Regions from separate parts of the Homo sapiens genome. Here regions 2, 3, 4, 5, 6 and 7 are each linked to region 1. The links come from fine-mapping of genetic effects on gene expression. A gene starts in region 1. Each other region holds a variant in brackets. All regions are shown on one strand. Distances are between the middles of the regions. Region 1 holds the start of TPH1 (tryptophan hydroxylase 1). Region 2 has its middle 9.2 kb from the start of MRGPRX3. Region 3 overlaps SERGEF (secretion regulating guanine nucleotide exchange factor). Region 4 overlaps SAAL1 (serum amyloid A like 1). Region 5 has its middle 16 kb from the start of MRGPRX4. Region 6 has its middle 28 kb from the start of TPH1. Region 7 overlaps SAAL1 (serum amyloid A like 1).

Evidence for each region.
Region 2: its variant is fine-mapped to the expression of TPH1 in lymphoblastoid cells (GTEx, PIP above 0.99).
Region 3: its variant is fine-mapped to the expression of TPH1 in visceral fat (GTEx, PIP 0.95).
Region 4: its variant is fine-mapped to the expression of TPH1 in unexposed skin (GTEx, PIP above 0.99). The same link has a PIP of 0.9 or more in atrial appendage, esophagus mucosa, esophagus muscle, fibroblasts, lung and pancreas.
Region 5: its variant is fine-mapped to the expression of TPH1 in gastroesophageal junction (GTEx, PIP 0.99).
Region 6: its variant is fine-mapped to the expression of TPH1 in lymphoblastoid cells (GTEx, PIP above 0.99).
Region 7: its variant is fine-mapped to the expression of TPH1 in whole blood (TOPMed, PIP 0.92).

Annotation. Positions count from the first base shown.
Region 1 is chr11:18,044,391-18,048,390 of GRCh38, forward strand. It overlaps TPH1 (tryptophan hydroxylase 1), which reads right to left and starts at 1,879. Exons shown (of 11, transcript NM_004179.3): 1 at 1,851-1,879.
Region 2 is chr11:18,139,794-18,143,793 of GRCh38, forward strand. No RefSeq gene overlaps it. Among named protein-coding and RNA genes, the nearest start is that of MRGPRX3, 9.2 kb to the left of the region's middle. The variant TA/T (reference allele first, on the strand shown) is at 2,231.
Region 3 is chr11:17,909,262-17,913,261 of GRCh38, forward strand. All of the region lies in intron 9 of SERGEF (secretion regulating guanine nucleotide exchange factor), which reads right to left. Among named protein-coding and RNA genes, the nearest start is that of SERGEF, 100 kb to the right of the region's middle. The variant G/A (reference allele first, on the strand shown) is at 2,293.
Region 4 is chr11:18,082,440-18,086,439 of GRCh38, forward strand. It overlaps SAAL1 (serum amyloid A like 1), which reads right to left. Exons shown (of 12, transcript NM_138421.3): 10 at 1,096-1,292. Among named protein-coding and RNA genes, the nearest start is that of SAAL1, 22 kb to the right of the region's middle. The variant C/T (reference allele first, on the strand shown) is at 1,885.
Region 5 is chr11:18,154,581-18,158,580 of GRCh38, forward strand. No RefSeq gene overlaps it. Among named protein-coding and RNA genes, the nearest start is that of MRGPRX4, 16 kb to the right of the region's middle. The variant CTGGACAGA/C (reference allele first, on the strand shown) is at 2,395.
Region 6 is chr11:18,072,590-18,076,589 of GRCh38, forward strand. No RefSeq gene overlaps it. Among named protein-coding and RNA genes, the nearest start is that of TPH1, 28 kb to the left of the region's middle. The variant A/G (reference allele first, on the strand shown) is at 1,762.
Region 7 is chr11:18,095,005-18,099,004 of GRCh38, forward strand. SAAL1 (serum amyloid A like 1) reads right to left here. Exons shown (of 12, transcript NM_138421.3): 3 at 1,767-1,850. Among named protein-coding and RNA genes, the nearest start is that of SAAL1, 9.1 kb to the right of the region's middle. The variant C/T (reference allele first, on the strand shown) is at 2,173.

The sequences.
Region 1 (4,000 bases):
CAGCCCAGGTGACAGAGCAAGACTGCGTCTCAAAAAAAAAGATGTGGAAACACTCCTCCTTGTTTAAGTCATGGTAAAAATGAAGGTTCTCAAAAGGAACTTTTGCTAAGAAACTAGAAAACTAGAAGAAAATTCTCACCCTCTTTTTTGTTCCCCCCCACCCCAAAATAATCTTACAGGACATAGATCTTTGATCGTTACTAAAACTTGGCCATAACTTTGCTTGGTTGACAGAGCTTATGAGGCATCAGTTATTTTTTCCTCCAGTTAACCCCAAACCGCTTTCAGAACCTCAATATTTTGCCTTGTTACTTTTTCCTTTCCCCTTTCAACCTACCCACCTCCTCCTACTCTTTCAGGAAAACAAAACAAAACAAAACAAAACAAAAAAACACAATACTAACCTGGTAAGATAAAATAGGTCACACTTGTTTGAATCAGTGTCTCATCAATACATAAGCATTTTATTTTTAAAGCAACTCTCTGATCAGCTAATACCAACTGGTACCCTTTTCTCATGAAAGGTAGAGTCATTTTCCTACTGCGTCTCCTGGCCTAAGGATGCACTGTGTAGGACATACCACTGGAAATAAGGAAAAAATACCAAGAAGACACTCAGAAGATCAACAGACCCGACCCTTGGGAGAGGTCAAGGCGTATACAATGACCAACTCTTTTCTTCCCTTAGTTTAATCAGTAAAACAAGTGTAATTTATATTTACCGGATCTAGGAAGCACAAAGCACTACTGAATTAGTCTTTTGAAAGCATGGATATTGTTTGAAGACAGAACTAAAAACTGCAAGGAGGATTCTTTCAGAGGGAGGGAATCCTCTACGGAGTCTTGATTTTCTTTTCTAAATAAGGAGTGGGAATGAGGATGAAAGTGTAGATGAAATACAAAAGAAAACACTATCCATGAAAAACAGTATTCTAGGAAATAAAGGCACTGGCAGAGAAAATGGAAATAGAAGACACATCCCTATCTGGAGATAATCTAATAATACATGTACAAATGGACCTCAGTGATAACATATGTAAACCACAGATTATAACTTTACAGAAACATTGATATTAGAATTCCACCCCCCCCTTTTTTTTTTAACTAACAGGCACAAACTTTTCCTGGGTTAGCAAGTTCAACTCTAGTCTTTTTCCTGCTAAGTCAAGTAGAGTGGGACATCAATGAGAAGTTCATTTTAAACCTCTGAAAATCAAACGCCAAAGGCAAGGTTGAGTTCACACGGACTCTTAACTGACTCTAAACCGCAAGGACCTAGTCCTCTTTGTCAATTGCGACCTTGCAAAAAGCTCTCAGTCGTCTGTTGGGATGGTGGTGATGATGGTAAGTGCGATGCTGAGAAGCTTTGCATCTGAGACTCCTTCTTCTTCGGGAGGCTGTTTAAGGGAAGCTTCCCTTCATGGGAGGAGAAGAAAAAAAGAGACATTGCCCTTTGATGGAGAGGAAGGGAAGGAAGAAAAATCTTACTGTTTCTGCCAACATAGAGGAGTCACACAGACTTGGGTTGGACTCTGGACCCCACTTTCCTCATCTGGGGACTCAAGAAATATCTACCAGAGTTTGTCATGAAGGTGAAATCTCATGATGGCTAAAGAGTCTGTTCCTGGCACACAGGAGGCACTCAGAAAGTGTCTTTTCTCCCCAAACAGCGTGGGAGGAAAGAATAGTAAGCGTTTATAGGGGTACAACTCCGACCTCCCAAATCTGACTCCGCAAGACCACCAATTTACCTCCCGGGAGGGTGACTCTGCCCAGCCCCGCGCCTGCCAAGCGCCGCCAAAGCCTCGACGGCGGTCCCCGGTGCCCGCGGGAAGGGCCGCCTCACTCACCTCGGGCGCCAGTAGGTGCAGGCTGGGTCGGCCGGCGGCCCCGCGCTGCCTGTCTCTTATAGAAGCGGGCGTCGGAGCAGCTGGGCAGCGGCCAATGAGAAGGGAGGGCCGGCGGGTGTGGGGCGTGGGCAGTCGCGTCCGCCTGCTCCCAGAGACTTGCACGCCTCAATCTCTGCGTGTATCTGACTGGTGTTTTAATTAAGTGAATGTTAGGCCGTCCTTAACCACACAAGTCTGACTAACACTGAACAATCCAGAGTTGGACATTCTCTCCAAACCAAGATAACGCCTATTATCGACACAATGACCTGCTATAGGACTGCAGTGCTTCTCGCCTGTTGGAGACCAAAGCAAGAATCCCCCCACCTCCCACACCTCTCTGTGCTTCTGGGCTATTTAATAGCCCAGTCCTGACTTATTATTCTCTTGGTGCTTTCCCCCATTCCTTGAGGCAGAGCAACAGTTAGTTGAACTTTTTAGAAGAGAAGTGTTCAGTGCCCTTCTAATTAAAAAAAAATTTTAAGCTGCAAGCAGAGAAGCATTCTATATTAGCAAAAAATCATATTACGTGCTATTGTGAACAACAGGACATAGAGGCAAAAAATTTGGAATAGGTATTTACTGGTTGAGTAGTCAGTCGATTAGCTCCTTATCCCAAAGGACTGTACACATAACGAAGTATATTATAGGACATTCTTTCCTCCAATGTTTGAAAAGTAAGATTTATTGATGTATAATTAACATACAGTAATATTCACCCTGTGAGGTGTACAATTCTGAGTTTTGACAAACATGTATAGTTGTGTAACCACCAAACGATCAAAATATAGAACATTTCTATCACTGCGAGAAATTTCCCTTGTCTAAAGTCTCTCACCTCACACCCAGCCCCTGGCAGCCACTGATCTGATTTCTGTCTCCACAGTTTTGCCTTCTCTGGAATGTCACAGAAATGAAATCATGAAATATGTACAGATTTTTGGCTCCTGGCACTTAACATAATGCTTTTGAGTTTCATGCAGGTATTAGTGATTTGTTCCTTTTCTTTCCTGTTTTCTTTTTTGCTGAGTATGGATGTACTTTAAAGCTCAGGATCTTTACAGCTTTTCTATGCATTTTTCTTTTATCTGTATAATGCTTCTATGAGGTACATATTATTTGTATTTTACAGATACGGAAATTGAAGCACAGGGGTGGCTCTAAGACGTTATTCTGGCACAGGCTAGTAAGTACCATCAATAATCAAGCAAAAGTGTCTGAGTTTAAATCCAGTGCTCTTACTTCAATGCCATAAAAAATACTGGTCAGGGAGAGACCTTTCAGAACCAAGCTGAGGTCAAAGATGTCTTTCCTAAACTGAAAGCCTTTCCTTGTAGATCTGGAACACGATAAGGATGCCCAATTTCACCACTATTATTCAACATAGTACTGGAAGTTCTAGCTAGAGCAATCAGACAAGAGAAGAAATAAAGGGCATCCAAACTGGAAAGGAAGAAGTCAAATTATCCTTGTTTGCAGATGATATGATCCTATATTTGGAAAAACCTAAAGACTCCACCAAAAAACTATTTGAACTGATTAAATAATTCACTAATGTTGCAGGATACAAAATCAACATACAAAAATCAATAGCGTTTCTGTATGCCAATGGTGAACAGTATGAAAAAGAAATTAATCCCATTTACAATAGCCACAAATAAAATAAGTACCTAGGAATTAACCAAAGGAGTGAAAGATCTCTACAATGAAAACTATAAAATACTCATGAAAGAAATTAAAGAGGACACCAAAAGAACAGAAGGCTATTCCAAGTTCATGGATCGGAAGAATCCTTATTGTTCAAATGTCCATGCTACCCAAAGCAATCTACAGATTCAAGGCAATCCCTATCAAAATACCAAAGACTTTCCTTACAGAAATAGAAAAAACAACCCTAAAATTTATATGGAATCACAAAAGACCCAGAACAGCCAAAGCTATCCTGAGCAAAAAGCACAAAACTGGAGGAATCACATTACCTGACTTCAAATTATACTGCAGAGCTACAGTAACCAAAACAGCATGGTTCTGGCATAAAAACAGACACATAGACCAATGGAACAAAATAGAGAACCCAGAAACGGATCCACACACCTACAGTGAACTCATTA
Region 2 (4,000 bases), 95 kb after region 1:
TGTTCACAATGTTGAACTCAGGTCCCCTGAGTCCAGATCTATTGCTCTTCCAGGCCTGGCATTCTGCTGATGCTCAATCCTATCTGTCCACCCTCAATTTCCAAATGCTGTAGTAGGACGTAGCTGTAGTTGAGAGTTTCCTACAGGTGACAGGAAGCAGGAAAGCAGTGTTTGCAGCCAATGCTCTGGGCCAGGAGCTTTGCTGTGATGTCTTTAGTTCAGACTGAGGGTTATTGAGAGAGTCCACTCTGGAAGTCTGTGATATCAATTGTACAGTTTTGGCTAAAGATGTTGTCTATCATGAGGAATTCTGCAGAGAATTTTCACCTGGCAATTGAATCAAATCATGTTGGTTCTCACCTGCGATTCTGCTTATTTTGATGTTAGTGACATTCTTTTTCTTTTGATAGGAGAAAACTTCAACTTCATGAAGGCTTAGATTCTGTCCCTGAAGCCCATTCTGAACTCACTTGGCCTCACACATTGCTCCACTACAGCACTTATAACAGTGTACTTCAAATATTTGTCCTCACATCTTTCTCTTCAACCGCACCCTGAGGTCTTTAAGAGCAGAGAAACTGTCTTGGAATTTCTAGTGCAACAGACTAGGTGTGGAATTTAGAAGAGTGTTGGTAACTATTTCTCTCAAGCAGCTCCTACCTGAAAATCACAGGGTCATCCAGCATCTTGCAAAGGCTGGCTCAGTCACCAGATCTCACTGGAACTCCTACAGGAACCTCCCACTCAACAGAGTGTCCTCTGCAGTTGGTCGTTCTGAGAACAGCTGTTCCCCTTCATTGCAGGTCTGCTCACTGCCTCTGGGAAGAAGAACGGAGGGGATGTGGGAATCTGCTCATGAGCTGCCTTCTTTCCAAGGCCAATGATATCATTTCCTCTAAAAGTTACATGTCGAGGAAGAGCATGCAGGACATTCAGGAGTATTCTCCAGAAAGTGAGAAATGATATGAAAATCTCACGTGGCACCTTTTGGGAGCTACCATTCATGACTACTTTTTTTTTTTTCTTTGAGATGGAGTTTCGCAAGCACATTTATTTATTTATTTATTTATTTATTTATTTATTTATTTATGCCCAGGTTGAGGTGCAATGGCATGATCTCAGCTCATTGCAACCTCTACCTCCTGCGTTCAAGCGATTCTCCTGCCTCAGCCTCCCAAGTAGCTGGGATTATAGGGGCCTGCCACCACGCCTGGCTACTTTTTTGTATTTTTAGTAGAGACGGGGTTTCACCATGTTGGCTAGGATGGTCTCGATCTCTTGACCTTGTGATCCGCCTGCCTTGGCCTCCCAAAGTGCTGGGATTACAGGCCTCAGCCGCCACACCCGGCCCATGACTATTTTTTAGGCATGAATTCAACAAACTTTCACACCTAACTCATCAAGCATTGTGCTAATTCTACATAAAAGCAAACACCTTTCAAATAAGTCTCTCACTAATACATCCTATCTCTATATCCAATCCTTTCCACTTCATGAAGAAAATATATTTATTGATGCTGAGCAAATGCTGAGCCTTCGTAGCCATTCACTGATGCTCTAGTACACCTGGGCTCAAGGGCACTGAGTCATCAGCCTCACAAGAACCAATTGGATCTGTTTCCTGTCTTGCTTTTGCCAATTAGACTTGTCAATATAATTACCTAATTTATCAAAATACACCACAAATCAATGAAATACCAGTATGAAAGAAGAATTGTGGTTTCCATACAAATTAATGTGAATGCTTAAAGGGACAATAAAAGCAGGTTCCAAAATTATTGTTAGTTTAATAGGTGTGAGTCTTCCAATTCTACAAGATTAAACAAAAATGAACAATATTGAACAATATCCTCAGAGAGAATGCTATGTATTTGATGCTAAGATCTACACTTAAACTAATCCACACTGCAAATCATAGACAATGATTGATAGATATGCTTTCAGCAAGATAGAGTAGAATTCTATTTGCTGAACCCTACACAAAGGAGTGTTCTGTAGTCTAGTTCTACTATAGTGAATGAATTCTAGGTAAAAATGAAATATTCATGTTACAAACATATCCTTTTTTATGAATACTGATTAACAGACATTTTCAGTTAACCTATCCACTTGCATTCCTGAATATATCATTAAGTGGGCTTTTCATAACAGTATCTCTCACTTATTCTACTGTTTATTGTATAAATACATACTGAGCATCTTCTATTCTCTAACTTGCATGCCAGACACT[TA/T]AGGAGTCAAAGTAAACACACCTACATTCACAGAGCGCACAGCCTGTGAAGGAAGGACACTAGTGCAGGAAAGACTGCCTCCCAGTGTGACACATGCTATCCAAGAGTTGTACTTGTGGCTCAAGGGTGCTCAGAGGAGAGGGTATCTAAAAATTCCAAGTTATCTTACTGCCATCCTGAAGAGGAATGCCACCCCCAAGCACCCAGCTGAAGCAGGGCAATACGACTCCAATAAATTAGAGAACGTTCACCAGGTGGCTGCTCATGCGGGACAACAATCTCAACAACGGTTTTATAATTGATGACATCACAAGATTAATAGGCTGAATCTTACAACAGCCCTCAGTCTATAGTCCAATATCACACCAGTGCACAATTCCAGAAAAGATTTTCAACAGACACTGCAGGTGCTTGGGTCACAGTCATTGCAGAACTACCTACTACCATTACCCTGTGTTCCAGCAGAAGAATCCCTTACCTCAAGGCAAACCCAAATCAAAGCATCTAGAAATCTTAGAATACAGAAGGGTGCAGAATATGCAAGTGCTAAAATGGGAAGAACATGGACATAGTTTCAGGGATTTGGGATTCTCAAGCTGACTGCATGGCCAACATGAGTCACATGCTCATTCCAGGGAAACCAAGCAGATAGTGAGGTTATGGGATTGTCCCAGTCTGAAACTGTGCCATTCGTGCATTTGTGCTCAGGTATCTCTTTTCAGAATATGTGGGCAAGGTGTGACTTTGCCATAAACATGGACTGAAGATAAGTACTGTTATGATCCAGACCGCCTGAGAAATTCGTGTCTCTGCACAGTGACTATAATCACAGTCAGCATATATTCTTCTCACCTATGTGGCAGTGACCTAGAATCCAAAGAGACTGCTGTGATGCTTTTCTGTATGACGGTGTGGTATCCACTGGGCACCATTATTGTCAATGTACCAATGCTGACTATAGATATAGATGGCATTTGTTTGCTGTTATCTAACAACAACAGCAGAGTATAGAAGAAGAAATCTCAATGCTCATGCCCATCATATTGGTCCAATTCTTCTGAAACCTTGCAGGATGCAAACACAAGGAAGGAGAGAAGAGACACAGCAGATCTTATCCCTAAGTGTGTATGTAGAAGTGAGTGGATCATGGAAGGCTTCGTGTAATAGGTGGAATTTTAACTGATGACTACAATTTACCCAGCATTATTATTATAATTATACCCTCTGTAAATTTTTCCAGTCACACAAATTTTTGTATTAGGGAAGGAGAGATAAATAGGATCTGGACAGATGGAAATAGAAGAAGAGATAATTTACAGTGGCACTGTTAATAAAAGCGTACAGTTTTTTAGGGAATGGTGAATAATTCATACATGAGTTTTATTCCTTGTATCACCCCATGTATCTGGTCATGGTGGCAAGATCCCTCTTAAATAGAATCACAAGGCTGGAGTGCTCTGAATAATGAACATTATCTTTTGTGGCCTTGAAGTAGTAGGTGTTGGTGTTAATTTTGTGATATTCGTAGGAGTGAACTCTATAATAATGTAAAGTCCAGAGTGGGCCAGGCAGGTCAGGCCAACAGGACAAGCCACAAAGTCAATGTCCTGCTCTCCATACCCTCCTCCAGCCCTCCAGGGTCAGAAGGCATATGTGCAGCCCTCCAGGGTCAGAAGGCATATGTGCAGCCCTCCAGGGTCAGAAGGCATATGTGCAGCCCTCCAGGGTCAGAAGGCATTCATAAAAGATAATAAAAAGCATGGGGTTAG
Region 3 (4,000 bases), 140 kb before region 1:
TGAGACATACAACACTTCGTAAATGAAAGGAGCAATGTAATTGACAATTATTATTTGGCCAGAAGCTGTCTCTTCTGTTTGAAGGAATCCAGAGCTTATAAATTGTTCCAGATTCCTTGTGACGAGAAAGAACACATGTTGATAAAGGAATGTACTCCAAGGTATGAGGAACCTGATATGTTACCATTCCCAGTGGGAGATTCTGCTGGAAAGGTCAATGCTTAATCCAAAGGAATGGTATTAATAATGATGAACTTGTAAGCAGGATCAGGGCCCAGCTGGGATGGCACAGAATAATGTGTTATTTTGTGTAACTATCAGAATATAGATGTCTTCTTGATGATATGGCTAAGGTATCATCATGCTATTAGAGTCAAATAAAGGACAAACCAGAACTACATTTGTGCAGAGTGGAGTGGCAGAAGTGTCACCTGAATAGTGATCATCCTGGATATATCTCTCAAACTGAATAAAGGAAGTGTGTATTCAGAGAAGTAGAAACCAGGTCCTCCAATCTTAGACATTAAAATGTCATATATCCAAGAAGGAGCTCCTGGGGGGAAAGTTTCTGATTAGACCTCCCACAGAGGCAAGGGGCTGCAGCTGGAAAGCAGAGGACCAGGCTAGAGTTAGGGGAGTTGCATCCACCCCTTAGGGCCAGAGACTGAGTGTCCTAGACTAAGTGAGCCAGATGCTTCACATTTCTTCTCTCTTTGTCTAGTTCCCTATCTCTCATGCACTATCATTCAGACAAGTCAGAACACTGCCAGCCTGCCTCAGCTGCACTCAGGGGACTCACAGTAAGGTCAGGGTCCAAACTTGGATCAAGGGGTTAAAGGAGGCCTACAGTTCCCCTAAGATCCAAAAGAGGTGAATTCAGAGGAACAGACTTGGAACCATTTGCCACCTACACACACACACACACACACACACTCTCTCTCTCTCTCTCTCTTTCCCTCCAAGGCTAAATCTTGTAAGTTCAGGGTTGGTTAGTTGGTTTGCTTAGAGACAGGGTCTCACTGTGCTACCCAGGTTAGAATGCAGTGGTGAACTCATAGCTCACTGTAACCTCAAACTCTTGGGCTCAAGCAATCCTCCTGCCTCAACCTCCCGAGTAGTTAGGACTACAGGCATGTGCCACCACGCCCAGCTAATTAAAAAAAATTTTTTTATAGAGATGGAGTCTTGTTATGTTGTCGAGGCTGGTCTTAAATTCCTGGCTTCAAGCAATTCTCTCCCGCTTTAGTCTCCTAAAGAGCTGGGATTATAGCCATGAGCCATCATGTCTGGCCTGTTGTGGGTTTGTTTTAATAAGCTAAATCATGGGAATTTGTCGTCTGAAGTCTCCCTAATATTTTGCAAATCATACACCATTCACTCATTCATTCATTCATTCTACTTTTACTGAAAACCAACTATATGCCCAGCATAGGCGAAGAGGACATAGAGAAAAAAAATCAGAAATTACATGTGCCCTCAGAAGATGTCCAATGTAGATGAAGAAGAAAGATATCTATACTGAAAGCCACTTTAAAAAAAAAAAGGCAAAACCAAAAATCTGGCTGTGAATCAGTAACAAATACGCTAATACAAAGCATCAGTGCTGGGGATAGAGGAGGGTGGCCAGGAGGGCCTCGTGGCTCAGGTGGGTAGACAAGACCTCACAGATCAAGTAGAACCTAAGCTGGACCTTACAGAAGAAGCAATATTTAAATAAAAGTCAGGGAGGGAAAATAGTACTTCAAGACTGTGGCAACATTCATTCAACAAACGCTTATTAAACACCTATTCTGTGCCAGACATGGGGCACATGAGATGAATAAGAGAGGAACATCAACAAATACTTTTGAAGAACTTAATATGTATCAGGTAATGTTTTAAGCACTTTACCTACTCAATCTTCCCTGCAATCCAATATGGTAAATTACTGTTATAACCCTCATTTTACAAATGAGAAAAATGAGGCAGAGGAAAGGTGAGTAACTTGTATGAGTGATGGGGCCAGGATTCATGTCTGGCTCTGGGAAGTTTTTTGTTTAAGTTTTATTGAGGTATTTTATATATATTATATATATATTATATATAATATATATATTTTATATATTAAAATATATATAAAATATATATACACACATATATATACACACACACATATATTTAATGTGTGTAATTTGATAAGTTTTGACATATGTACACACTAGTAAAAATTTTTTTTTGAGACAGTCTTTCTTTGTCACCTAGGTTTTTTTGAGACAGGATCTCTCTGTTGCCCAGACTGGAGTGCAGCAGCAC[G/A]ATGGCTCACTGTAATCTCCACCTCCCAGGCTCAAGTGATCCTCCCCGCTCAGCCTCCCAAGTAGTTGGGACTACAGGTGCGCACCACCACACCCAGCTAATTTTTGTATTTTTTGTAGAGATGGGATTTCATCATGTTGCCCAGGCTGTTCTCAAACTTCTGGGCTCCAGCAATCTGCTCATCTCAGCCTCCCAAAGTGCTGAGATTATAGGCATTATCTACCATGCCCATCCTACACTAGTAAAATCTTTACCACAATCAAGATGATGAGCATATCTATCACCAAAAAGTCCCCTCGTACAGCCCTGAGCAGTTTTTGAATGACAACTCATTAATGGAAGCAGGGAAGTCAAGTGGAGGTAGCTGGGTAGTAGTTTGGAGTTTAAAAAAATGACAAATTTAGCTTTGGATATGATGAGTTTGAGCTTATATTCAGCAAATAGTCAAAAACAGGGAACTAGAGAGGGGCTTGGTAAGTGGAGGTGGGAATACTGATTCCAGAATAAAGATAAAAGTAAGACCCTATCCAAGAGGGAGAAACAAAACAAAACAAACAGAGAGAAGAGCAGGGGCTAAGAACTGAATCTGGGAGACATACAGTATAGAAGAGAAGAAGAGAAGATGGTGAAGGAGACAGGGGGATGACAAGGAGAAATACACAGTGTTATGAAAACCAACAGAGAACAAAGCTTCTAAAAAGTTAGATGCCAGAGAAAAGTCAAGGATAATGATGACACTGTATAAAAACATTTCAGAACCAGAAACAAACTCAGAAATGATATAATTTTTCTTTAAAAAAACACAGGGAATCTGAATACCATTTGTGGCCTAGTTAACAAGAGGTATTGTACCAATGCCCATTTCCTGATTTTGATATGATACGACAGTTACATAAGATTCTATCATTGAGGGAAGCTGGGTGAAGCGTATATAGGATCATCTGTATCAATTTCCCTCTGAATCTATATTTCAAAATTAAAAAGTTTAAAAACCAAGGAACGAACTGAACATCATCTAATGTATGCCAGGCATTGTACTAAACACTTTCATAATGAATGATCATTTTAATCTTCGAATAATCCTATTAAATAGATGCTATATTCCCATTTTATAGCTGACAAAAGTGAGAGGCATAATAAAGGACTTGCGCAGAATCACCCAGCTAGATTATGAGGGAGCCAAAGCATTCACTACTTCTTCTACCACAATGTGTATACATTCCACCTAAGGCAGCCCTGACAAGTGGCCTCTCGGCTCCAGCTTCAACAAGTCACAGCCTTCATATTTTACATCCACACAACTGTAGAATAAGCTACTTTACCCTATCCTAGCCCCAGTTTTCTCATTAGTAAAATGGAGCAATAACTCTTATCTTACTTAATTCATAGGACTGCTGTGAGATTCCAATGAGATAATGGGTGCAAAGGATCCTTACAAACTGTAAAGTCTGTGCCCATCTCAGGGACTGACATTCTGAAACAAATGACTGTGAGTTAGGTCAGCCCTGGCTAAACAGACAGAGGGAAAGAAAAAATATCTGCACTAGCAACTCTTGCTTGCCTGTCCTTTTGGGTAGTATATGACCCTGGGGATGCACTGGCTACCCGCAGCATCTGGCCAAGGGCAGGCAGTCCTCTCTGCATAAGCCTGTATCAGCAATACTAGACCCAATCACCATCCTGCCTCCACTAGCCCCACTTTCTTCCA
Region 4 (4,000 bases), 38 kb after region 1:
ACATATAAATAGCATTTTGACAAAATATGGCCATCATGACTTAGCCATCTTCACATTTATAATGTTGAATCCAGTAATTTAAATTATATAAAACCTGCTAAGGTAATAACCCCAAATCTGGAAAATACAAATATGGAAAAGGGAAGCAAGACAACTAATAAAAAAAAAATCACCAGAATAAGAGAAACTTTTTGTTTCATTTTGTTTTTTGAGATAGGGTCTCACTCTGTCGCTCAGGTTGGAGTGTAGTGGCACAGTCTGGGCTCACTGCAGCCTCGACCTCCTGGGCTCAAGCAATCCTTCCATCTTTGCCTCCCAAGTAGCTAGGATCACAGGCGTGTGCCACCATGCCCAGCTAATTTTTGTATTTTTTGTAGAGATGAGGTTTTGCCATGTTGCCCAAACTGGTCTCAAACTCCTGGGCTCAAGTGATCCACCTGCCTCAGCCTCCCAAGTGCTGGGATTATAGGCGCCTGGCCAAGAGAAACTTCTTAAGGAATACTCTTTAAAAAATTAAGTGGGTATGAATAAATATATTCTTCACAGCTATATTTATAACATTTTATATTCATAATACAATATATTCATAACATATTCATAATACATTTCTTTCCAAATATATGGATAGAAAAAACATGGTCAAAAGAAGAATATTAATAACCATTGAACATATTCAGGGAGAATGTTCCTTAAAAGAAGTTTGCAGTAAATTTTGAAAACTGATTATTTGGTAAATTAGGTTTAAACTGGCTCTCAGTAAAAAAGTCTTTCATCTAGAATCAAGAAAAATGTTTATAATACAGTGTTAAGGGAAAACAGTAGTCTATAAAAATTGCATATGCTGGGTTAAAGTATATGAAAAATGCATTTATAAAAACACATGCATGCAAACATAGGCATATGTCTGTCACACGTAAATATACCAAACCACATCAGCTAGTTGTTTTTAAGATTATAAACTCATGGTGATATTAAGATTTTACTTTATTTTCCCAAATTATATATTACTTTCATATTTAAAAAAAAATAAAGTTTGAAGCGTTAAGCAACCCACACTTTCTTTTGCTTATGACATCATCAATACTTCTTTCCTACCTTTGTTAATGCCTGAAAAATATTAGAAAGAAATTCACATAAAATATCCTTTAAGATTTTCAAGTGGAAATCATCTTGGGTTAAATCAGTCCTTTTAGTTTCCTCTGTGTTAGACTCTGCCGAGTTCTCTGGTTTTTTCTGACACTGTTCCATATTTTGTAAGACCCGAATGAGGCTGTCAATTAGAGGAAGATCTACTGTATAAACAAATCAAGAAGCATGGAATTGGCCAGTTAAGTTTGGTTTTTCATTCATATGTATTGAATTAGTGCTAGACATTATTATTTTGGGTATTACAGATACACTGGTAACATCAGCAAGATGTCAGCCCATAAGAGGCTTACATTTTTATACTTTCAAATAAGTAAATAAAACAGACTATTTCAGGTTTTGGTTAAGTTCTATGAAGGAAATAAAAGAGGAATATAATATAGCAGCCTAGCAGGGCTAGCTCTCTGACAAGGTAACATTGAGTTGAGAACTAAAGCAATGAAGCATCAGCAATTAAAATACCCTAGGAGGTCAGGGGTGGTAGCTCACGCTTGTAATCTGAGCAGTTTGAGAGGCCAAGATGGGCGGGTAGCTTGAGCCCAGGAGTTCGAGACCAGCCTGAGCAATATGGTGAAACCGTGTCTTTACAAAAAGTACAAAAAAATTAGCTCACAGGATTTTTCTACCACTACCACTGTTACCATCTTGGTCCAAGTTATAACATTTCTTGCTATGAGTCAATTATGAAGAATCTCTAAAAGCCTCCTAACTCATGTCCCTTTTGTACCCATGACTCCC[C/T]ATATTTCTCATCAAAACAGCAGCCTATTAAAGCCAGCTCATGCGTAGGCAACTTCTGCTTAAAACCCACCATGGTTCCCCACCTCATTCAGAGGAAAAGGCAACATCAGGCCCTCCATACTCTACCTCTCTGGCTCCATGTGCTACTTTGCTAAATCCACCCCAGCCATATGGGATCTCACTGTTCCTCCTCAAAGACACCAGGCATACTTCTGGTTGAAGGCTTTTACACTTTCCATTCCCTCTGTCTGGAATGTTCTTCTCCCCAAGTATGCACATGACTCCCTCCATTCTGTCCCTAAGGACTGTACTCAATGCCACCTTCTCAATGAGGTAACGTATCTACAAATGAAGATCTTAAAAATATTCAACATTCCTTTTTTATTAAAAACTCTTAATAAAATAGAAACAGATTAATATTTCCTTAAATGGTAAGACATATATCTGTTTTTGGAGGGGGGGTGCGGAGTATTGCTCTGCTGCCCAGGCTGGAGTACAATGGCGTGATTTCAGCTCACTGCAGCCTCTGCCTCCCAGGTTCGAGCAACTCTCCTGCCTCAGCCTTCTGAGTAACTGAGATTACAGGCATGCGTCACCAAGCCTGGCTAATTTTTGTATTTTTAGCAGAGACAGGGTTTCACCATGTTAGCCAGACTGACTTTGAACTCCTGACCTCAGGTAATCTGCCCGCCTCAGCCTCCCAAAGTGCTGGGATTATAGGTGTGAGCCACAGCACCTGGCTGTAAAACATATATCTTATACCCAATAATGCTTAACAATGGAACTCTAGGATTATTCCTACTAAAATCAGGAAGAAGGTAAGGATGTTTTCTACCATCACTATTATTTTACACCAGAGACTCTAGGCAACCCAGAAAGACAAGAAGAATAAACCAGAGATAGACAAGTGATAAAATATATCTAACTTAAGCCAAAGCACTATCAGATAAAGCCCAAAGATTATTACTGGAACGACTACTAAAAATATTAAGAATTTGGTAAGGTTACAGGATACAAAGTTAATATACCAAAATCAATAGCCTTCATATATTCCAACAATAATAATCAGTGGAAGAAAATATGTCACAGACAATAGTAAACCCAAAAGATACAATTATCTAGGAATGAAACTAATAAGAAATATCCAAGATCCATATGAAGAAACCATTACTGAGGGACACAAAAAAGACCTGAACAAATAAAAGGGCATAACATATCCTATCAAGTTAACACGATGTCAACAAAAATGTCAGAAATTTTTTGTTTTTGGAACTCAAAGTTAGTGATAAAAATAGTTAAAAACATTCTGAAAACTTAGAATGAAGAGGAATTTGCCTTATTAGGTATTAAAACATAAAACCTTAATATTTAAAAACACTATGGCTACTAATATATGAATACAGCAATGGAACTGAACAGAATATATAGGGGAATTTTAAAAATAATGATGAAATTTCAAATCAGTGTGGGTAAGCTGGATTATTCACTAAATGATGTTGAGATAACTGGGTAGCCCTCTGGGAAAAAACTGATACCACTAGAACCAAAGTTATCAAAGGGGGAAAAAAAATTAAAGCCACACTTCACATGTGACACGAGAATAAATTCTAAATGAATCATGAATTTAATTGTGGTCATAAAAACAATTCTGTGAAAGAATATGTGTTTATATAGGAAAATATTCATTTTATATTTCTAAATGAAATGTTGGCTAAAAAGCAGAATTAAATATATGTGCATGTGTGGGATGGTAAGATTACAAACATCATGTTTCCTTGATATTTTTTATAAATTTTTCGGCAGGGTGCAGTGGCTCATGCCTGTAATCCCAGCACTCTGGAAGGCAAGGCAGGAAGGTCATTTGAGCCCAGGAGTTTGTGACAAGCCTGGGCAAGATTGTGAGACCCTGTCTCTATAAATATTTAAAAACTAGCCAGGTGTGGCGTCATGTGCCTGTAGTCCCAGCTACTCAGGAGGCTGAGGTGAGACAATCACCTGAGCCCAGGAATTCAAGGTTGCAGTGAGCTATGATCCTGCCACTGCACTACAGCCTGGGCAACAAAATAAGACTCTGGCTTTAAAATAAGTAAACAGGCCAGGTGGGGTGGCTCACGCC
Region 5 (4,000 bases), 110 kb after region 1:
CAATTTTGTACAATTGTACAATGTGTTTGTGTTTTAAGCTAAGTGTTATTACATAAGAGAAAAAATTAAAAATTAGAAAGTTCATAAAGTAAAATAGTTACAGTAAACTAAGTTTAATTTATTATTGAGGAAAGAAAAATTTTTAATAAATTTAGTGTGGCCTAAATGTACACTGTTTATAAAGTCTGCAGTAGTGTACAGTAATATCCTAGGCCTTCACATTCACCCACCACTCACTGACTCACCCAGAGTAACTCACTGTCCTGCAAGCTCCATTCGTGGTAAGGGCCCTATACAGGAATATCATTTTTTAATCTTTAGTACCACACTTTTAGTGTACCTGTTCTATGTTTAGATGTATTTAGAACACAAATACTTACATTGTGCTATAACTGCCTACATTATTCAGTACAGTTATTGCTGTGTAGGTTTGTAACTTAGAAGCAATAGGCCATAGAATGTAGCCTATGCATATAACAGGCTATACTATCTAGATTTGTCTAAGGACATTCTATGATGTTCACACAACAATGAGATCGCCTAAGGATGCATTTCTCAGAATGTATCCCTGTTGTTAAGTGAAGCATGCTGTGCCTGATTTATCAAAATACAATGTAAATCAATGAAATACGAGTATGAAAGTAAAAGTGTAGGTTCAGTGAAAACTAATGTGCATGCTAAAAGGAGCAGTAAAGGCTGGATTCAAAATTATTGTTATCGAATTTTAGCTGTGAGCCTGACAACTGTTCTGCACTGAAAAAATTTAACAATATTGAGAAACATCTTCCTGCAGAATTTCTTTCATATGATGCTATGATCTCCATTTTAATAAAGTCAAACTGCAAGTGATAGACAATGCTTGATGGATGTGCTTTCTGCAAGACAGGTAGAGTAGAATTCTATTTGCTGAACACTTCTCAAAGGAAAGTCCTTCATCTCCTTCATTTTTGGTAAGTGAATTCTACTTACAAATAAATTTTTATATTATAAATATATCTTTTTTTACAAATGCCGTTTAATAGACCTTTGCATTTGAACTGTCCACTTTCAGTGCTGAATTTGTCACTAAGTTGGCTTTTCATAGCAATGTCATATGCTCATTCTTCTGTTTATTCTATAAATACATACTGAGAATCATCCATCTTCTAGCCTGCATGCCAGACACTGGGGCATCAGAGAAAACATACCCATCTTCACAGAGCTTACAGTCTGTAAAAGGATGGAGCCTAGTGCAGGGAAGACTGCTGCACACTGTGAAACATGCTATTACAGAGCTGCATCTGTGGGTCTAGGGTGCTCAAAGGAGGAGGCATCTAAAAACTCTCAGTTCTCTTACTCCCATCCTGAAGGGGAATATCACATCCAACTTCCCTCGTACGCATGACAATATGGTTCCAAAAATTAAGGGAGGGTTCACCAGGTGGCTACACATGAGGATGAAATACATCCTCAGCAAAAGGTTTACAATTGATGGAAGGGCAAAACTCATTCTGCCGAATCTTGTAACGTTGCTCAGTCTACAGTCTGATGTATCACCACTGCACAATTTGTGGAAACATTTCTCAAGGAGAGTCCCTACAGGTGTGTAGGCCATAGGCATTACAGAACTACCTGCTTCCACCACCCTGTATTCCAACAGAGGAAGCCCTTGCCGCCGGTAAAGCCCAACTTAACATCAGGAAATCCTGGGATATGTAGGGATGCAGAATGGACAATGCTAGATTGGAAAGAACAGTGGACCTGGAGTCAGGGAACCTGGATTCTCATGTTGACTCCATGCCAACTTGGGTCACATGCCCTATCCAGGCCACTGAAGCAGCTAGTGAGTTTATGAGATTTCTCTAGTCTGAATCTTATGCCAGTTGTGTCCAGGTAAAAGAAACCATTGGTGGGAGCTTACTTTACCATAGACTTGAAGGTAACTATCATTGAGAGTCAGGCAGATGCAGAAGATCACATATCTACATCGTGACTATAATGACATTGAGCATATATTCTTCTCACACATGTGAAAATTACCTAGAACTCAGACAATAGTGTGGTATGTATTGGGCACCAATATTGTCAGTGCACAAATGGTGACTATAAAAATAGATGGAATTTAGCTCCTGTTTTCCAGAAGCTACAGTAGAGTGTGGAAGAAAAGATCCTATTACACATGCTTATCATATTGGCAAAGATGGCTCAAAATCCACTAGGATTAAACACTGAGATTGGAGCAAAGGGTAAAAACCCCATTAATAAGTGTGTCTAGGGTGGTGAATAGACCAGGGAAGGTTTCTTGAAATACTTGGAATTTGAAGTGACAACTCTACAATTCGCCCAGCTTGTACCCTCTGTCTCTTCAACCAGTCACATACATTTTTGAATTAGGCAATGAAAGCTAAATATGAT[CTGGACAGA/C]TGGAAATGGTAGAAAAGGTAATTCCTGGTGGCACTGCAAATAAAAGCATAGAGTTTTTTGGGAATGGCAATCAGAACATAAATGTTTCATTTCTTTTGCCACCACAGGCATTTGGACATGGTTGTGAGAACCCTCTTAAAAGGCTCAAGGATGTTCAATTCCCACCTATGAGTGAGAACATGCAGTGTTTGGTTTTTTTGTCCTTGCAATAGTTCACTGAGAATGGTGGTTTCCAGCTTCATCCATGTCCCTACAAAGGACATGAACTCCTCCTTTTTTATGGCTGCATAGTATTCCATGGTGTATATGTGCCACATTTTCTTAATCTAGTCTATCATTGATGGACATTTGGGGAACATCACACACCGGGGCCTGTCGTGGGGTGGGGGAGGGGGAGGGGTAGCATTAGGTGATATAACTAATGTAAATGACGAGTTAGTGGGTGCAGCACACCAACATGGCACATGTATACATATGTGACAAACCTGCATGTTGTGCACATGTACTCTAGAACTTAAAGTATAATAATAAAATGAAAAAATAAATAAAAGAAAAAAATAATAGGCTCAAGGATGGAGTGCTCTGAACAACGAGTGATGTCTGTTGTGGCCTTGAAGTGGTAGAGGTTGACATCTATTTTGTGAAATTAGTGGACCGTGAACTAAAATACAGTCAAGTCTGGAGAGAGCCAGCCAGGTCACCCCAGCAGGACAAGCCAAAAACCAAAGTCTTGCTCTCCCGACTCTTCCCCCTGGTATATGTTCAACCCTTCAGTGTCAGAAAACACCAAAAAAAGCAAGGGGGGAGTGGGCGGTTCCAAGATAGACGAATAGAAACAGCTCCAGTCTACAGCTCCCAGTGTGAGCGATGCAGAAGACAAATGATTTCTGCATTTCCAACTGAGGTACCGGGTTCATCTCACTGGGGATTGTCGGACAGGGGGTGCAGGACAGTGGGTGTAGCAAACTGAGCATGAGCCGAAGCAGGGAGAGGCATCGCCTCACCCGGGAAGTGAAAGGGGTCAGGGAATTCCCTTTCCTAGCCAAGGAAAGGGGTGACAGACAGCACCTGGAAAATCGGGTCACTCTCACCCTAATACTGCACTTTTCTGACAGTCTTAGCCAACAGCACACCAGGAGATTATATCCCATGCCTGGCTCAGAGGGTCCTATGCCCATGGAGCCTCGCTCATAGCTAGCACAGAGCTCTGAGATCAAACTGCAAGGCGGCAGCAAGGCTGGGGGAGAGGCGCCTGCTGTTGCTGAGGTTTGAGTAGGTAAACAAAGCAGCCTGGAAGCTTGAACTGGGTGGAGCCCATCGCAGCTCAAGGAGACGTGCCTGCCTCTGTAGACTCCACCTCTGGGGGCAGGGCATAGCCAAACAAAAGGCAGCAGAAACCTCTGCAGACTTAAATGTCCCTGTCTGACAGCTTGGAAAACAGCAGTGGGTCTCCCAGCACACAGCTTAAGATCTGAGAATGGACAGACTGCCTCCTCAAGTGGGCCCCTGAGCCCCGAGTAGCCTAACTGAGAGGCACGCCCCAGTAGGGGCAGACTGACACCTCACATGGCTGGGTACTCCTCTGAGACAAAACTTG
Region 6 (4,000 bases), 28 kb after region 1:
GCCATACCTGCTTGGTCAAGCATGGGTGTGAAATATAAGTTCCTTACAGGAAATATCCTTATAGGAAACCTTTCTGTAGAAGGCTATGATTTTGAGTGTCCAGCGCCAATTCATCACACGGAGCTACTTTTCCTAAGCCCTAGGTGGAGCAGTCATGTTCAGAGGTGAGAACAGTGGATCTGGTGTTCAGCTTCAAATGTACTATTTCCTTGTGAACTGTCACTTATAAGCTGTAAATCTCTCCCAATTTAGTCCAGTGTCTCTGTACAACCTGTCTCTTTCATCGACATTGTTAGCCCTTTAAATGTTTGTATTCCTTGGAGCTTTGTCCTAAGTCCTTAAGCTGTATCTCTAGCCCACTCTCTCACAGAGTTCCAAGTCTGTATGGAAATGGGACATCTCCATGTGGATGTCCAACAGGTATTCAAAATTGAACACGTCTTTTACCCACCTTTACCTGCAACTCTTCCTGGATTACTTCCCTATCATGATGAATGACGCCATCATCTATTCAGTCACCTAATCCAGAATTCTGGATTTAACTTCTCACTCTCCTTTGCTTCAAACTGATGCCCAAATCCAGTTGTGTCTACTGCTAAACCTCTCTGTATCAAGCCCCTCCTCCCTCAGAAGGCTTTCAGTGATCATGACACTTTAAGGGCTTCTCACTGCCTTCAAGGTCACACTCAGCATGGTGATGTGCCACTGAGGACCAGAGAGTTTCCCTTTTCCACTACGTTTTACAAAAAAATCCTCCTCAGCCCCATGAGGCCTGTGGTTTAGATCTCAAGGACACACAAGAAATCAATCAGTTGGCTCTTCAGAACCTTATATCATGGATGGTTTGTGTCTCATCCAGAATTGGGGAACTTTCACTACCCTGCATCCTACCCTTCTGTAATCCCACAGACACTTCCACATTTTCTCTGTCTGTCACTTATTACACCATTCCCGGTGCCATTTTTTTTTAAAGATGGGAATGCAAATGATCATATCCCAAGTAGAATTTATTATAAGTTAAATTTACTATAGCGATTTGGGCATATCTTACAGACAACCTAAAGCAGGAATTACTGCTGGAACCCATGAGACTGTGACATGAAGCTGGAAAGCGGCTGAGCATTAAGGCAGCTTTTCTTTCATGCTGTTTCAGTGAGAGGTTACTTCAGTAAAGACGTGTAACAAACTACCCCAAGATTCAATGATTCAAAACAATAATCATTTAACTACTCATCACAGATCTGTAGGTTGGCTGCAACTCAGCTAGGTTAGGCTGGACTCCAGGTTGCAGATTAAAAAAAAAAAATTTTTTTTAGAGGATGCGGTCTTGCTCTGTCACCTATCCTGAAGTGCAGTGACACGACTATAGCTCACTGCAGCCTCAAACTCCTGGGCTTCAGGCAATCCTCCTACCTCAGCTTCCCAAGTAGCTGGAATTACAAGTGTAAGCCACCACACCCAGCACCGGCTGCAGACTGGGTTTAGGTTTGCTCCATGTTTCTCATCCTTCATGGATCAATGGCTACCCAGGGCATGCTCTTCTCACGGTAAATGACAGGAGCACAAGCAAACTGCTAAAAGTACTCTGCTTACATCAGCTCCATTAACATTCTATTGGCCAAAGCAAGTGACTTGGTCAAGCTCAAAGTCAAGGGACAGGGAAGTACACTCCATTCACGGAGAAGCCATGGCAAGGGCACGATACACAGAGGTGAAGAATCGAGAATAATGATCCAGTCTGCTACAGGATGCATGACCTCT[A/G]TGCAGACCAGCTTCTTCCTCTGTTCTTCTTACACATGACTCTGGAATTCCAGGCCCACTAGGTCAAGATTTTTTCTGCTTTGTCCACAGTATTTCTATTACACAGATTTTGTCTGTTTTGTTTACTGCTGTCTTCCTAGTCCTTAGAATACCTGGTACATAGTGGATGATAAATATGACTGGCTGCCTCCTCCCAAATAGTGCCCTCAGCCTTGTAAGTTACGTGGTCTAGAGTCCTGTGTCCTTGAGCCAACCTGAGTTGTCCAGCTTGGGTTAGGAGTAATTCCCTTATTAAACCATACGCTGTAACCGGGGGAAGAATGTGGGCAGTCCAGCGGCAATTTTGGAGAAAGGAACGTGGATGTGCAGATAGCCTAGCTGTCTCTTCCATGTGATCTATCAAGACCTTCATGCTCCAGTCCATGCCTCCCCACAGTATGCAAGTACAGTATAGTGGCTAAAAGAATATTCATTAGGCTAGGCAGGTCCAGATCCAAGCCCTGGGTCAGCTACTTACTACCTAAATAACTTTCAGCAAGTTATTTTACCACTCTGAATCTTCATTTCTCCATCTATAAAATGGTGACAATTACCTTATGGGATTATTGCAAAATTAAATAATATACCTAAAGACCTTTACAGAGCATCTGACACATAGTAAATCCTCAATAAATGGCGGTCATCTCTAACAGGAAATTAAGTCTGGTGTCTACCACATCCTTCTGTGTCCTGAGGTAAATTTCGTATCACACTCATTTTAATTTCAACTTTAGTTGATTGTGTTGGGTCACACACTTAGCCCAAAGTAGCCAAATCACAGGTGACTCACACTGCTTGATACAAAAAGACTAGTAACTGCGCAAGAATTTCTCTCTCACAAATTTAAAGAAATACCAAGAGAATAAAGTGATTAAGCTGGCAGAACACAACCCCCCAAAAAAGACAGGCTGGTGTGGTCTTGAGAGACCACAGACAAGCTGAAGTCCTAAGAAAGAAGAAACGGAAATAAGGAAGCCAGGTGACACAGGGACTCAGAGCAGACCCTGATGCCACCTCCTTGGGTACAGATCCTCTCCCCTCCAGGTCTAATTTCAGTGTGGCATGACCCTCTCCCAGAATTGTGATCCTTGCCAGAGCCCTGAGGCATGAACAATTAGGATAAAATGAGAATGCCCTACTCCATGATGTTACTACACTATAGAATCTTGCAAACGTCCAGGGAAAACACAGTTGTTCAGAAAGGGCAATCACATGGGCACAATCATAATGATAGAAGGAGTAGCCTGATATTACGAAATCCTTGGCTGTGAAATGTGAACTTATGGAGGTTTTCTGGCTTTTATATTACAGATGTTCCTTGGGTTGTATAAAATTGGATTTAAGCAAATGTGACCTCATGCAAATTATCTAAGATACATCATAAAAGCTTAGCGATGCAGATTTTGCATTCTATATAGAAATACAAAGCAGTCAGGTTGATGAACAAATAGTATGAGAGGTGAGTGGAGGGCTAGCAGCACCACCACAAGGTTCCCTCCTGCTTCCAGTCTCACCTGTGGTTTTTTTTTTGGTTGCTGGACTGGCCCACAAGACTCAAGACTACATTGGCCCAGGCTCTTGTAAGTTTGACTAGCCCAATGACATAAAAGGAATAAGCATCATTCATAATCAAATTAAAGCTTAAGTTGTGTATCATTTATTTGCTTTTATAAACCTTTAACAGGAAGGCCAGGTGTGGTGACCTGCAAGCCCAGCACTTTGGGAGGCTGAGGCAGGATTGTTTGCAGCCAGGAGTTCAAGACAAGCCTGGGAAACAGTGAGAACCCATCTCTACAAAATCAATAAATAGGCCAGGTGTGGTGGCTCACGCCTGTAATCCCAGCCCACTGAGAGGCCAAGACAGGCGGATCACCTGAGGTCAGGAGTTTCAGACCAGCCTGGCCAATATGGTAAAACCCTGTCTACTAAAAATATAAAAATTAGCTAGGCTAGGCATGGTGGCTCACGCCTGTAATCCTAGCACTTTGGGAGGCAGAGGTGGGCGGATCACAAGGTCAGGAGTTTGAGACAAGTTTGACCAACATGGTGAAACCACGTTTCTACTAAAAATACAGAAATCAGCCGGGCATGGTGGCATGCGCTTGTAATCCCAGCTACTCAGGAAGCTGAGGCAGGAGAATCGCTTGAACCCGGGAGGTGAAGGTTGCAGTGAGCCGCGATTGCGCCACTGCACTCCAGC
Region 7 (4,000 bases), 51 kb after region 1:
CTAGGGTAAAGCTTCTCAGAGTGTGGCAATGCACCAGAGCACCAGCATCACCTGGGAACATATTAGGAATCCTGGACCTACTGGACTAGAAACTCTGGAGGGAGGCTCGGCAATTAGTGATGCGGGGACATGCTTAAGTTTGAGAGTCCCTGTCCCAGGTGATTCTAACATGCAGCCAAGGCTGAGAATCACTGTGGCAGCAGACGGTGGCCAGCGGATATAATACAACAATATGACTAATTCCTAAAAGGTGCCATTCCTGACATAAGCTTATTTCTTTATATACTAGTAGTGAGTAAATATATTTAAGACAGAAAAACTCAGTATAAAAATAGCATAATCATCAAATCTTATATTAATATAAGGAATCAAGGAAAAAACGGTTAATCAGGCCCTAATTCAGAGAGAACATTCTACTTAAATAAGAATTCTAATTCAACATTCAATTTGTAAAAATACACTATGGAATTCTCCATTTTATAATCTGAAAGAGAGGAAATACAGTACAGTGGTTATACTGAAGTCAGGCCTAGGCTGAAATCTCAGCTCCATTCTTTCCTAGCTGTGTGACCCTGAACACATATCTTCACCCAAGATTTAGTTCTTTGAAAGTATACCTCATAGTAGTAAGACCAGGTATTCAGTAAACAGCAGTTTTTCATAATTATAATTATTGAACAGATATTTACTAATCCATGATATGCATAGCACATGGCAATTTAATTGGCAATAAAGCACAGTACACTGCACAGTATATAAAGGCCTCTCCTTTAGTCTTTATCTATTGTTCTTGGCAGTTTACTAACAGCAATGACTACTGAAAGCTTACTTACTTACTTGGGAAGGTGTGGAAGGAAAAGTACCACTGTGAATTAACAGATGCAAATACTGAGAGGGGACAGAAGGCACACAAAGGGAGGCACGGAGACAGCATGAGACAGGGAGTAGAAAGGTCTGGCTAAATCAGAAGGGTTACCTGGCTATCCAGATTTTATGCTGGAAAGATGAGTTAGGTTCAGAGAGTAGAGGTCTTAAGCAGCAGGCTGAGTTTAGAATGGTTTTCAAGCAATGGTGGATTTTGTCAGTAAAAAAGAGAAATCAACTGAAAAATGGGAGGCCCAGGCTCTGTTCCTTGTTCTGATACATACTAGCAGCATAACAGTGGTTATGCCTAACTCGTCTCCACAGCTGGTAAATGAAAGTGCTAATTTCCCTGGTCCGGCCTGAATCTAAAATTCTATGATTTTCATAATTTTAAATTATTAAATTATTAATAATTTAATATTTTAAATTATTACAGGCATTTAGCTCACGCTTATAATCCCAGCACTTTGGGAGGCCAAGGTGGGAGGATCACTTGAGGCCAGGAGTTCAAGACCAGCCTGGGCAACATAAGGAGACCTTTGTCTCCACAAAATAAAAATAAAAATTAGCTGGGTGTGGTGGCTTACACCTATACTCCCAGTTACTTGGGAGGCTGAGGTGGGAGGGTCCCTTGAGCCCAGGAGGTCAAGACTGCAGTGAGCCGTGATCACGCCACTGCACTCCAAGCCCTGGAGACATAGTGAGACCCTGTCTCAAAAATAAAATAAAATAAATTTAAATAGCAAATTACCTAGGACCTGGCAATGTTCAATTAACATCTACAGGCTGATTTGTTGATTTATGGTCAGTAAGAAAATCAAAGTGAGAAAAATAAAAGACTATCCAGCACTATCTGTTCTTATTGCTTCAAAGAAGAAGGCTTTAGAAATGTACATACTTACTCTTAATCGAGGACACTTGGACTTGGCCAGTACTCCCATGAATATATCAGGAGCATTAAATTCTTGGAGAAATAAAGCCACGTCCTGAAAAGAAAAATGATTATTAACTTGGATGTTGAATATTCCTCCCTAAACCCTAAAGCTCAGGCAACCATAAAATTCTATATTAAAATTAGAATTTTACGCCAGGCGCAGTGGCTGACACCTGTAATCCTAGCACATTGGGAGGCCAAGGCTGGCAGATTGCCTGAGCTCAGGAGTTCAAGACCAGCTGGGCAACACGGTGAAACCCTGTCTCTACTAAAAATACAAAAAAATTAGCCGGGCATGGCGGCATGCACCTGTAGTCCCAGCTACTCAGGAGGCTGAGGCAGGCGAATCGCTAGAACCCGGGAGGCAGAGGTTG[C/T]AGTGAGCTGAGATCACGCCACTGCACTCCAGCCTGGGTGACAGAGCGAGACTCTGTCTCCAAAAAAAATAAAAAAATAAAATAAAATTAGAATTTTAGACACAAGAAAAAAAAAACACAGGCTTAGGAACTGTGTCAACAGACAAAAGTGATGTTAGAGAGTCTTTATGGTAACTAGTCCCAGACAATGGAACAATTTCATAAACAAATCTAAACTACCTACAATACTCCAGAGGATTATCCCACTCTTTTCTGCCCGAATCTATTTACCTTAATAATTTTTCTGCCCACTAGGAATTCTCATTAAACACATTCAAACACATTTGGTGATTACCTATCAGGTATTAAACTAGAAGCGGGGGACAAGGGAAAAAAGCAACACGCTGGGCGCAGTGGTTCACACCTGTAATCCTAACACTTTGGGAGGCTGGTTAGAAGGCCGAGGTGGGTGGATTACTTGAGCCCAGCTTGGGCAAACATAGTGAAAACCCATATCCACAAAAAATACGAAAATTAGCCAGGTGTGGTGGCACATGCCTGCAGTCCCAGCTACTTGGGAGGTTGAGGTGGGAGGATCACTTGAGCCTGGGGAGCTCAAGGTTGCAGTGAGCCATGACTTTGCCACTGTACTCCAGCCTGGGCAACACAGCGAGAAAAAAAGGAAAAAAAAAAAAAAGGTAAAACTTGGCTGGGCGAGGTGGCTCACGCCTGTAATCCTAACACTTTGGGAGGCCAGGACAGGCGGATCACTTGAGCCCAGGAGTTCGAGACCAGCCTAGGCAAACATAGTGAAACGCCATCTCTACAAACAATACAAAAATTAGCTGGGCATGGTGGTGTACCATCTGTAGTCCCACCTACTCAGGAGGCTGAGGTGGAAGGATTGCTTGAACCCGTGAGGCAGAGGGTGCAGTGAGCTGAGATCTCGCCACTGCACTCTAGCCTGGGCGACAGAGTGAGACTTTGTCTCAAACAAAAACAAAATTCCTTCTTGTCCTCCAAGAGCTTAAAACACGGTAGGGGAAAGAAGTCAAGAACTGCTATTGGGTCCTGTCCAAAACCAGAATTTGTGTTTTCAAAATCATCAATAGAATAAAAATTCTGATCACAATGTAACTGTGGCAGCCTCATAACTTCTTCCTACAGAGTCTGCCACAGTGCCTAAAGGGGCGTAACACACAGGTGACATGTGAGTGGACATGTGGCCCCAAATGAGCCAAATCTCACCTAGGAATGTAAGACACAAAAGCTAAGTCAGTTTGCTTGGGGACCTGCAATGTAAAATATATAAATAAAATTAAGTCTCTGGCTGTCCACTGCTTCAGATTTTCACTAAATGTGAGGTGTGTATTTGAGAAGCCTTAACTTAAAATATAAGCTGCATGGCTTATGTGAAAATTAAGGGCCCTGGAACATCTCAAAGAGACAGGCAATTATTCTCCACAGCAAGTGAAACCAGTAACCTGCCAGACAACTGACTGAGAGAGACACACTCTACTTACTAAAGGACCATGGTCAGAGAAAATAGTATTTTCAAAGATACACTCTAAACTGAAAGTCATAATGGCAGATTCTCTTCACTGTAAGTGATCAAGCTGTCCTGTGGGCAATTCTTTGCCACATGCAGAAATTTTTAAATTTAATGGTAATTCCTGGAGTAGCACAAGGGTGGCCTAACAATATCAACACCAACAGTAATAAAATTAACATTCATTGAACAAGTATTAAATGCCAGGCACAGTGAAGTGGCTTGCATGCTATCTCATTTAATTCTCAAAACAACTCTATCAACTAGTTATCATTGTTAGCCCCATTACACTCATAAGCA